Regions from separate parts of the Homo sapiens genome. Here region 2 is linked to region 1. Evidence: fine-mapped expression QTL. A gene starts in region 1. The other region holds a variant in brackets. All regions are shown on one strand. Distances are from middle to middle.

Region 1 (5,385 bases):
TTAGATCTGGCATCCAGATGAATCATCTAAAATGCAAATCTGGTCAGGTCACTCCCAGCCTGAAATGCTCCAGTGGCCAGCCATAACTGTAAGGATAAAGTCCCAGGTACTTGGTAAGGTCTGCCATGGTGAACTCAAAGTGATGATAATATCAAACCTCTTTCAGTGCTTGTGTATGTCATAATGTGACACATCTCTGTGCCTTTGCTATTGCTGCTACTCCTACTCTTCGCTTGGACAATGTATTCTTTTCAGTCTCACAGCTCAACTAATTGTGTGTGAATGTGTGTGTACATAAACATTTTTATAACAGTGCCTGGCATTTAGTTAGCACAGTATGTATTAGCTATTATTATTATTCCAGGAAACCCTCTTGGACAAATTAGGCTGAATAGCCTTCTTTCATGTCACCTTAGCACACTGTGCATATTTTATATTACCACATTACAGTGAAGAGGTGTCTTCCTCTGTCTGCCTCCACAGCTAGAGTGCAAGCTCCTTGAGGCAGGGACCATGTCTTACTCATCTTTTCAATCTAGTGCCAAAGGGGTATAGTGTCCTGTGCATCGCATGCATTCAAAAAATCTTTGTGTATTCAACTGATCCCCAGCATACCTTCCAATCATTTTTAGTCCTAGAGGGGTTTCTTTTTTTTTTTTTTTTTTTTTTTTTTTTTGAGACGGAGTCTCACTCTACCGCCCAGCTGGAGTGCAGTGGCGCGATCTCGGCTCACTGCAAGCTCCACCTCCCAGGTTCACACTATTTTCCTGTCTCAGCCTCCCGAGTAGCTGGGACTACAAGCACCCGCCACCACCTCCGGCTAATTTTTTGTATTTTTAGTAGAGACGGTGTTTCACTGTAGTCTCGATCTCCTGACCTCGTGATCCGCCCGCCTCGGCCTCCCAAAGTGCTGGGATTACAGGCGTGAGCCACCGCGCCGGGTGAGGGGTTTCTTAAAAAGCATTTTCATCAGATGAGACCCCAGCCCTGAGGGGAGAAGGAGAAAGAGAAAGAGAAAGAAAGAGTATTTTCAGCCACCACCTGAGGCCACCATGTTCTTCCTCTCTTACACATCTAGTACATACCCCCTTAGGCTTCCCATAAATCCTGTCTTTCCTGTGGATAATTTCTTCAATCATTAGTGGTGTGCTTCTTCTTTCTTTTTTTTTTTTTTTGTTTGAGACGGAGTCCCACTCTGTCGCCCAGGCTGGAGTGCAGTGGCGCAGTCTCAGCTCACTGCAACCTCAACCTCCCAGGTTCAAGCAATTCTCCTGCCTCAGCCTCCCAAGTAGCTGGGATTACAAGCATGCGTCACCACGCCTGGCTATCATTAGTGGTGTGTTTCTCCAATGATGTCCCTAAATCTTCTTCCCTGGGGTCTGCACCTCCCTTGAACCTCCCCATTCTACACCTAGTGCATGCTTTGCCAGGGTAATTCCAAAGGCATCTGGGGGTTGGGGCTGTTGGTAGAAATCCTAGATGTCATGGCTGGATCTTTCCTGGAAGTTTGGGTTGGGACAGGTATTAAACAGGCCACTCTGAATGTATAAATCTAATTAAAAATTTATGTGATTGGTGGGCATTTTTTCCAACCTAATAAAGTCCCTTTCCATCCCCCAGCTCTTTGTATTTTAAAAGCCAGGTCACTAGACTTGATAATTCTAGAGAGAGCTGACTGAAAAGAGTTGGTTTGATTAGAAACAGAGGTTCAACACTTTTACACTGTTGGTGGGAATGTAAATTAGCTCAACCATTGTGGAAGACAATGTGGTGTTTCCTCAAAGACCTAAAACCAGAAATACCATTTGACCCAGCAATCCCATTACTGGGTATATACCCAAAGGAATATAAATAATTTTATTACGAAGATACTTGCACGCATATGTTCACTGCAGTACTATTCACAATAGCGAAGACATAGAATCAACCCAAATGCCCATCAATGATAGACTGGATTAAAAAAATGTGGTACGTATACACCATGGAATACTACACAGCCATAAAAAGGAACGAGATAATGTCCTTTGCAGGGACATGGATGGAACTAGAAGCCATTATCTTCAGCAAACTAACACAGAAACAGAAAACCAAACATTGCATGTTCTCACTTATAAGTAGGAGCTGAACAATGAGAACACATGGGCACAGGGAGAGGAACAACACACACTGGGGCCTGTAGGGGGAGGAGCTGGGGAGAGGGAGAGCATTGGGAAGAATAGCTTAATAGATGCAAGGCTTAATGGGTTGATAGGTGTAGCGAACCACCATGGCACACATTTACCTATGTAACAAAACTGCACATCCTGCAAATGTACCCTGGAACAAAATAAAATAAAATAAGAAATAGAGGTTTGAGTCTTTCCTGGTAAGCATATTTATGCTCTACCACAGACGGTTCAGCCTTGGGGCAAGACAGTCTTTCTCCTAATTTTTGTAGTTTTGAACATTCTAAAGTTTTTGTTGTTGTTGTTGTTGTTTTCCCTGAGGACAGAGGCAACTTTGGGGAAGTACTTTGTCGGGTAGGATGGAATCTGGGGCCTTTAGTTTTCCTTCCAAGAGCCCATAGGAGGTTTTGGGTGCCTTCTCAATGCTGGCATGAGAAAATATAAAGCAGATGGACAGTGAACTTTGGTATATTCACTCCTTATGAATGTTATGTGGAAAAGTGGAAGAACATAAGCTGTTTGTCTATGCTATGTTTACAATTGGTTTGCTCTATTTTGTGCATGTGGACAAAAATGGGGGAAAAATGAAAGCTGTGTTAGGATAATGGGTATACGGCTGAATTTTCCAGGAATTTCTATAATAACACCAAATCGCATGTTTTAATGCCCACCGTGAACAAAGAAGACCGGAACCCTCGCAACTCGTTTTGACGTTTTCTGGTCGGCGGTAAAAGCTCGGTTCCCGGCCCTCCCGGAAGTTGTTGCACAGTTGTTTCCGGGAAGCGGGACTCCAAATGGGTCGCAGTCGCAGCCGCTCTCCACGGAGGGGTGAGTCCTGTAGCAATTCGGAGGATATGGGGCTCTGTTGGAGGCCTGTCCCTTTTGTTTTATTTTGTTTTGTTTTTGGTAGCCGCGTAGCAGAGAGGCGGGCCCTTTTCCCAGGCGGAGAGCGAGGGGTGGATAAAGGAACGTAGACCTGGGCCCTGCCCTCTTCAGCCCGCCCTCTCCGGTTTGAAGGCAGTTGTTTGTCTCTGAATTAGTTTCATTAAGTCTTTGTCACCTTCATACAATAACTTTTATTACACTGTGGCCGGTGGGTTTAGAATTAGACCTCAGTTCCTTTGCTGAATTTCTGGGCGACGGTGGGCAAGTCACTACTCAGCCTTTCTGAATCGAATTCCCAGAATGAGTCATTGAGGGTAGTATTGCCAACTTTTAAAAACTGATGTGAGAATTAATGTCACATCCCATAACATACAGTATGTGATTCTGCCTGGTTCTTAAATACTTAATAAATGTTAGATTCCTGCCCAGGTCATTACAGGGAAATCGATATTAAGAATTTTGAGTCCTGGGAGCTCACTTCGTAATGTTTTCTGGCTACCAGCCCCATAAATGAGGCAGCGCGACGTAAAGAACCCTGGACTTCCATTAGGAGATCTAACTTAGACCCTCGGTTCTGCCCCTGATTCGTTTTTTTTTTAAATCAATTTATTTATTTTTAATGAGACAGAGTCTCGCTCTGTCGCCCGCCCAGGCTGGAGTGCAGTGGCCGATCTCAGCTCACTGCAACCTCCACCTCCTGGGTTCAAGCGATTCTCATGCCTCAGCCTTCCGAGTAGCTGGGATTACCCGTCCGTGCCACCACGCCTGGCTAATTTTTGTATTTTTATTAGAGACGGGGTTTCGCCGCGTTGGCCAGGCTGGTCTCGAACTCCTGACCTTGTGATCCGCCCGCCAGCCTCACAAAGTGCTGGGATTACAGGCGTGAGCCACCGCTCCCAGCCTCTTTTTACCTTTTTAATGTGACTAGTAATGGTTTGCATTATTTTTCTACTGGACGGCGCAGCTCTAGATATTTGAGGTAATTATCAGTTCTGCAATTTGTGTGCGTTTGCATTAGAACGTAGGCGTTCCCGGTCCACATCCCGGGAGAGAGAACGCAGGCGCCGAGAAAGGTCCAGGTCTCGGGAGAGAGATCGGAGAAGGAGCCGCTCGCGATCCCCGCACCGAAGACGCTCCCGGTAAGGGCAGAAAATAAGCCAAGAGTTTTATTTACCGAAAGTCCCTAAGAAACTGGTCGCAGCTCTTAACTTTGTTTTCATCGCTTATAAGGGGATTTACGGTTTCCTGAAATGGAGGAAACTTAATCCAACCTTATTCTAAAGCTAACATTCACCTTGGTTAAATGGTGCTAATAGTACTCTACATCACAAAGTTGTCTTGAAAGAGTAAGTAAGAAATAATGCATGCAAACCCCAGAGCATGGTGCTTGGCAAGAAAAAGAAATAAGTATTTTATATTTTTGTTTCTTTCTTCCGTTCCTTTCCTTTCCTTTTCTTTTCCTTTTCCTTTCTTTTCCTCTTTTTTGAGACGGAGTCTCGCTCTGTCACCCAGGCTGGAGTGCAGCGGCGCAATCTGCTCACTGCAACCTCCGCCTCCCCTGCAATCTCTGCCTCCCCTGGTTCAAGCAATTCTGCTGCTGAGCCTCCCAAGTAGCTGGGACTACAGGCACATGCCACCACACCCAGCTAATTTTTTTTGTATTTTTAGTAGAGACGGGGTTTCAACGTGTTAGCCAGGATGGTCTTGATCTCCTGACCTCGTGATCCACCCACCTCGGCCTCCCAAAGTGCTGGGATTACAGGCGTGAGCCACTGCACCCGGCCTGTTGTTTCTTTTTTATTAACTTTTTGGTGATAATGATTTATTCAAGTATGTAATCAAGAATGGATGATCTTGGAAGAACATTAGAAATGGGCTCTGAGTCTTTTTTTTGGTTTGTTTTTTTTTTTTTTGAGAGAGAGGGTCTCCCTGTGTTGCCCAGGCTGGTCTTGAATTCCTAGGCTCAAGCAATCCTCCTGCCTCTGCTTTCCAAAGTGCTGGAATTAGTAGCGTGAGCCACCAAGCCCCACCTGGCTCTGAGTCTTAATAACCATCAATTGCTGTTTAAGTCAGCTTTTTTGTATATTTGTGTGTGGTTGTTAGAAACTTTTAATTTACATTTTTCTGCCTTCCAGAAAGCTTTCTAGCCCTAGTTGTACTGAATGCAACTGATGATTAAGCAGTAAACTACATTAAAAAATTTTTTTGTTAACAATCAAGGCCTTGGCAGAACCTTTTTCCTCACTTTGCTATACGGAATGACTCGTGGTTCTGTGGAGCTCACCTCATGTATATCTGTGCTGATTGATACAAAGTTGATATGTCTGTCTGTTTC
Region 2 (5,385 bases), 44 kb before region 1:
AGATAAGCTCACTCCCTCTATTTATCCTTTTCAGTATAAATGTCATGAAACAGCTCATTGGTTCATCTAACTTATTTGTGATGCAAGTGGAGATGGATATATACACTGCTCTAAAAAAGGTACTGACGTAATATGATGTCATATTATACAAGGATGTCACCTCAGCAATGCGTATAATGGTGAAAAACTGGAAACAGTATCCAGTAATAAAGGGATGGTTATAAATGTAGGAAAAGGAAATAGGCCGAAACCTTAAAAAGTCTTTATATTTAGGGATTTGGAATCATTAGTGATTTTAACTTTATTTTTTGTACTTTTCTATTTTAGGAATACTTTTCTGTTTTTTCCCAGACTTTTCTTTAACAAAAAATATGTTATTGCTATTTGTTTATTTACATAATCAAAAATGTTTTATATTGTTTTTAGGAACGTTTTCAAAGTTGAGCTTCAGTTAATGATGGCATTTTTACACACGCTTTTTCTAAGAAATGTTGAAATTTTTCTTTTAAAGGCCTGTTTGTGTGTCTGGCATATGTTTTACTTCATGCTTTTGAAAAGTTTCAACATTTAAAAAATCTAATTTTATTTTCACAACTCTTTGAAGACACAGATCAGCCATTATTCTTCCATGTAGATAGTGAGACTCAGAGCAGGTTTGAGGCAGAGACTGGGTCTTGGGAGTCCTAGTCCATTGCCCTCTTCCTACTGCATAATCCTGCCTTTACCCTTTTGTCCGCAAAACAGTGTTGTGAGTATTTAACACAGTTGTGAAACTTCAGACTGAGACACTTTCTAGCTTATCTCATAGGGACTCTTTGTTTGTTTGTTTCTATGGTAGAGGTGAAATTTTGTTACTGTTTTTCTTCAAGGAACTTTACTATCTGGGCTATCCAATCTTTTAAAAAATTGGTGCAGAGGTCAGGCACAGTGGCTTACGCCTGTAATCCCAGCAATTTGGGAGGCCCAGGCTGGCGGATCGCTTGAGGCCTGGAGTTCAAGATCAGCTTGGGTAACATGGCAAAAACCCCTCTCTACAAAAAATACAAAAGATTAGCTGGGTGTGGTGGTTCGTGCCTGTAGTCCCAGCTACTCAGCAGGCTGAGGTGGGAGGATCACCTGAGCCTAGGAGGTGGAGCCTGCAGTGAGTTGTCACAGTGGCATTCATTTCTGTTATTAAAACTGCTTTTTGCCAGTAATGGTAAGTACTAATACTTACAGGATGTTTACGTGCCGTGCACCATTCTAAGTATTTATGTATATTAAATATTTTAATGTCCTATGAGGTAAACATATTATCATGCTCATTTTACAAATGAAGAAATTAAGGCCCAGAGATACTAGGTAATGTGCCCGGCTCTTAAGTGCCAGGTTCAGGATTTAAAAGTTTTTGCTCTTACCTACTCTGCGTATTATCTCAGCAGCAGTAAGACAAAGAAGCTCCTTTTTCCCATGTTCATTTCTTGCTTTTATAATCTCATATAGTATTTAGTGAAATTGAGTTGTTAGTAGAATAAATTAGTATAAAATTTCTAATTAATATACATATATATTAAACCTTTACCTTTTTAATACAGTAATCTCCAGTGTGTTACCATAAATACTTCTGAAGGATTGGCTTACTCCTTAGCACACACATCCAATTTTTATCACTGGACTATGATTTTTTTTTCTTTTTTCCTGGAGACAAGGTCTCGCTCTGTCACCTAGACTAGAACATAGTGGTGCGATCATGGCTCACTGCACCTCGACCTCTAGGGCTCAAAAGGTTCTCTCACCTCAGCCTCTTGAGTAGCTGGGACTCCAGATGCATACCACTATGCCCAGCTAGTTTTTTTTCTGTGTGTAGAGATGGGGTTTGACCATGTTTCCCAGGCTGGTCTAAACCTCTCTCAAGTGATCTGCCCACCTTGGCCTCCCAAGTGCTGGGATTATAGGTGTGAGCCACAGCACCCAGCCATTGGACTATGATAATGCCATGATAAATTGAGTGCTTATAGTTGTACTTTCTTTCTTGCAATTGCTGGTAAAGTAGAAGTTAAATTTTTTAGCTATTATATTTTAAGGTGAAAGCAATTTGAAAATGTAAAATCATAAAATGATGAAATTTCATAATTGTTTTCTTATTTAATTTTTTTTAACTTAGTGGATGTTCCTTCAACTTGTGCCTTCTTGGAATGGATCTTTAAAACAGCTTTTGACAGAAACAGATGTCTGGTTTTCTAAACAGAGGAAAGGTAGGCCTGAAGTTTTTGAGAACTTGTCTTTTAAAAGGAAATTTGTTAAAATCAGGCCCCATGAGAACAGAAAATAAATAAATTAATTAATTAAATGAAATCAGGCCCTGACTTGTTTATAGACTTAATTTTAGAGCTTGGAGAAGACCTTAGCAATTATCTACTTCACCCCTCATTTACAGTGAGAAAATCAAGGCTAGATAAGAAAAATACCTTAACTATCATTATCTGAATTGTTACTCCTTGAACTGTCATCATACTCTTGATCGCCAAAAACTATTGTTTTTCCCATTTTATCACTAACAGATCTTGTTGATTGCATTTGTCTTGACCACACTGAGTTTTCTCTAACAAGCTATACCCCGTCAGGCAACCATTCTTAACATAGGGGCCATAGATAGGCTTTCATGTGTCACTGACTCCCAAAAGTGGGTACAGAATTTGATATGTGTGTGTGCTGCTGCATACATTTGTGAGAGGAGAGCTTCCATACCTTCCGTCAGATTCTTAGTGGAGACTGATCTAAAATTGGTTAAGATCAACTGCTATAAGGTCTTA[T/C]CTGTGCAAAGGAGGGCATGCAATATAAAAAAAATACATGTGTATACTAAGTTAAAATGTATGTATGTTATTTTTTACTTTGCTAAAACATATCTAGAAAAAGTATTTTTTACGGCTGTCAGGTGCAAAGAACTGGATAAATCCTTAGTTCGTGATTTTCTTAGTTTATGGCCACCTTTTTGGTTTATTTTTAATACGTTGAGCCTTTGTGACCTAATCTTTGAGTACTAGAACATCAGTAACTTCAGTCTTAACTCATGTGCTTCTTTTCTATTGTGTCCCTCTGACTTTTCCTAACCACTATCTTGAACTTCATGTTTATTCTTTTGCTTTATAAATATATATTATTGCACCATGTATATACGTCTTAACATATATTACATAGTGGTGTGCTAATAAGCTGACTCTGAAAAAATAATCCTTGATTAGTACCATTTCTTAATTCCCATGGTACAAATTTTCCCATCATGGCTGATTGATTGCAAGCTACCAACATGACATCACTGAATGAGAAAGGAGATGCACACAGCTCCTATGAGCTAGCAGCAACACGCCACTGTATAATATATCATTTTGTTTTAGTTGTTATGGAACTATGTCACATTGTGGCCTTAATTTTAATGTCCTTTATAACTAAAGAGATTGAATGACTCTTAATATGGTTATTAGCCATATGTTTCCTCTTCTGTGAGATATCTGTTCAGGTATGTTTCCTATTTTAATGTCAGATTTGTCTTTTCTTATTGATTTGTAGGCATTCTTTATGTATTCCTGATAACTAATCCTTTGTCATACATATGTTCTGCACTTCCAGTTTGTAGGTTATCTTTTTAATTTATTAAAGATGTCTTTTTGGTTGGGTGCCGTGGCTCATGCCTGTAATCCCAGCACTTTGGGAGGTCAAGGCAGGAGGCTCACTTGAGACCAGGAGTTCAAGGACAGCCTGGGCAACATATCAAGACCCTGTCCCTACAAAAAGTTTAAAGAATTAGCAGGGCAGCCTGGCACGGAGGCTGATGCCTGTACTCCCAGCACTTTGGGAGGCTGACGCCTGTACTCCCAGCGCTTTGGGAGGCTGAGGTGGGCAGATCACAAGGTCAGGAGTTGGAGACCAGCGTGGCCAACATGGTGAAACCCTGTCTCTACTAAAAATACAAAAATTAGCCGGGTATGGTGGTGGTCGCCTATAATCCCAGCTGCTAGGGAGGCTGAAGGAGGAGAATCGCTGGAAACCAGAAGGCGGAAGTTGCAGGGGGCCGAGATTGCGCCATTGCACTCCAGCCTGGGCAACGAGCAAAACTCTGTCTCAAAAAAAAAGAATTAGCAGGGCGTGGTGGCATGTACTTGTCTGTATTCCCAGCTACTGGGGGGAGGATCACCTGACCCTGGGGGTGTCAGGGCTGCAGTGAGCCATGGCCACACACCACTGCACTCCAGCCTGGACAGCAGAGTGAGACCCTGTCTCAAAAGGAAAAAAAATGTCTTTTGATGAATAGATATTCTTAGTTTTAAAATTTCATGCTCTTTATATCTTAGTTAAATACATTTTATAGAATTATTTTATGTAGTCAAATTACCTACCTCAGAGCCAGATAAATTAATTTTCTATAAAGTTCCTGAAGTAAAAATGTGTAAAGAACCATATCAGTGAAATATAACTTGATTTCCTTGAAGAACAAAAATACTAAACTTGTATCTTAAATTATACTTTTGTGTTACGTTATGGCAATTAAAGAAGGACTAGGGAAATTATAGAGGAGAAAAGTAGGGGAAAGCATTTAAATAGAAGAGAGAGAAAAGCTGAAAGAGACAAGGATGGTGAAGAAGTTAAAAAGACAAAGAGACTCAGTAGAAACAGTAGATATTAGGCAAATGTTGATAGAACCTTATGATCATTTGTGCTCCAGATAGATCCACCACAGCAATCAATCAAAAGAGAAATTGCCCTGTAGCCTAAGTGGCAGAAACTAGAGAAGCAAGCTGTGGTCCACTTCTGGATTCCCACTTGAGGCTCTCCCTCCCAGCCCCTGAGGTGTGAAAGTATACAGTTCAAGATAACTTTTCAAGGAGACATTGATTGCACAAACCAAAATGTATGTCTGATGCTCTTGTTTTTCTATGAAGATTTTACAGAGTCATTTTCAATAGTTTTAAAATTATAAATAAGATGCATACTTAGGAAATAGGATAGAAAAATCACCTGTGATCCCTCACTCGTTATATTTTGGCATATGTCTGTCTGTCTTTTTTTTTTTGAGACAGAGTCTTGCTCTGTCACCCAGGCTGGAAGTGCAGTGGTGCGATCTTGGCTCAGTGCAACCTCCACCTCCCAGATTCAAGCAATTCTCCTGCCTCAGCCTCCCGAGTAGCTGGGACTACAGGTGCATGCCACCACACCCAGCTAATATTTTGTATTTTTAGTACAGATGGAGTTTGCCATGTTGGCCAGGCTGGTCTTGAACTTCTGTCCTCGAGTGATCTGCCTGCCTCGGCCTCCCAATGTGCTAGGATTACAGGCATGAGCCACCACACCTGCCATATATTTTTGTATATTTCTTTTAAGTTTTCTTAATTATTTGACTTTTCAGATCTA

What was found. PIP is the estimated chance that this variant, and not a neighbour inherited with it, causes the effect.
Region 2: its variant is the best candidate, but not a certain one, in a credible set for the expression of SNRNP27 in whole blood (INTERVAL, PIP 0.69).

Annotation. Positions count from the first base shown.
Region 1 is chr2:69,891,026-69,896,410 of GRCh38, forward strand. It overlaps SNRNP27 (small nuclear ribonucleoprotein U4/U6.U5 subunit 27), which reads left to right and starts at 2,931. Exons shown (of 6, transcript NM_006857.3): 1 at 2,931-2,993; 2 at 4,069-4,189. The coding sequence starts at 2,960. RefSeq lists enhancers at 2,556-3,491, 3,234-3,293, 3,492-4,426.
Region 2 is chr2:69,847,509-69,852,893 of GRCh38, forward strand. It overlaps GMCL1 (germ cell-less 1, spermatogenesis associated), which reads left to right. Exons shown (of 14, transcript NM_178439.5): 7 at 35-119; 8 at 2,144-2,234. Among named protein-coding and RNA genes, the nearest start is that of GMCL1, 21 kb to the left of the region's middle. The variant T/C (reference allele first, on the strand shown) is at 2,793.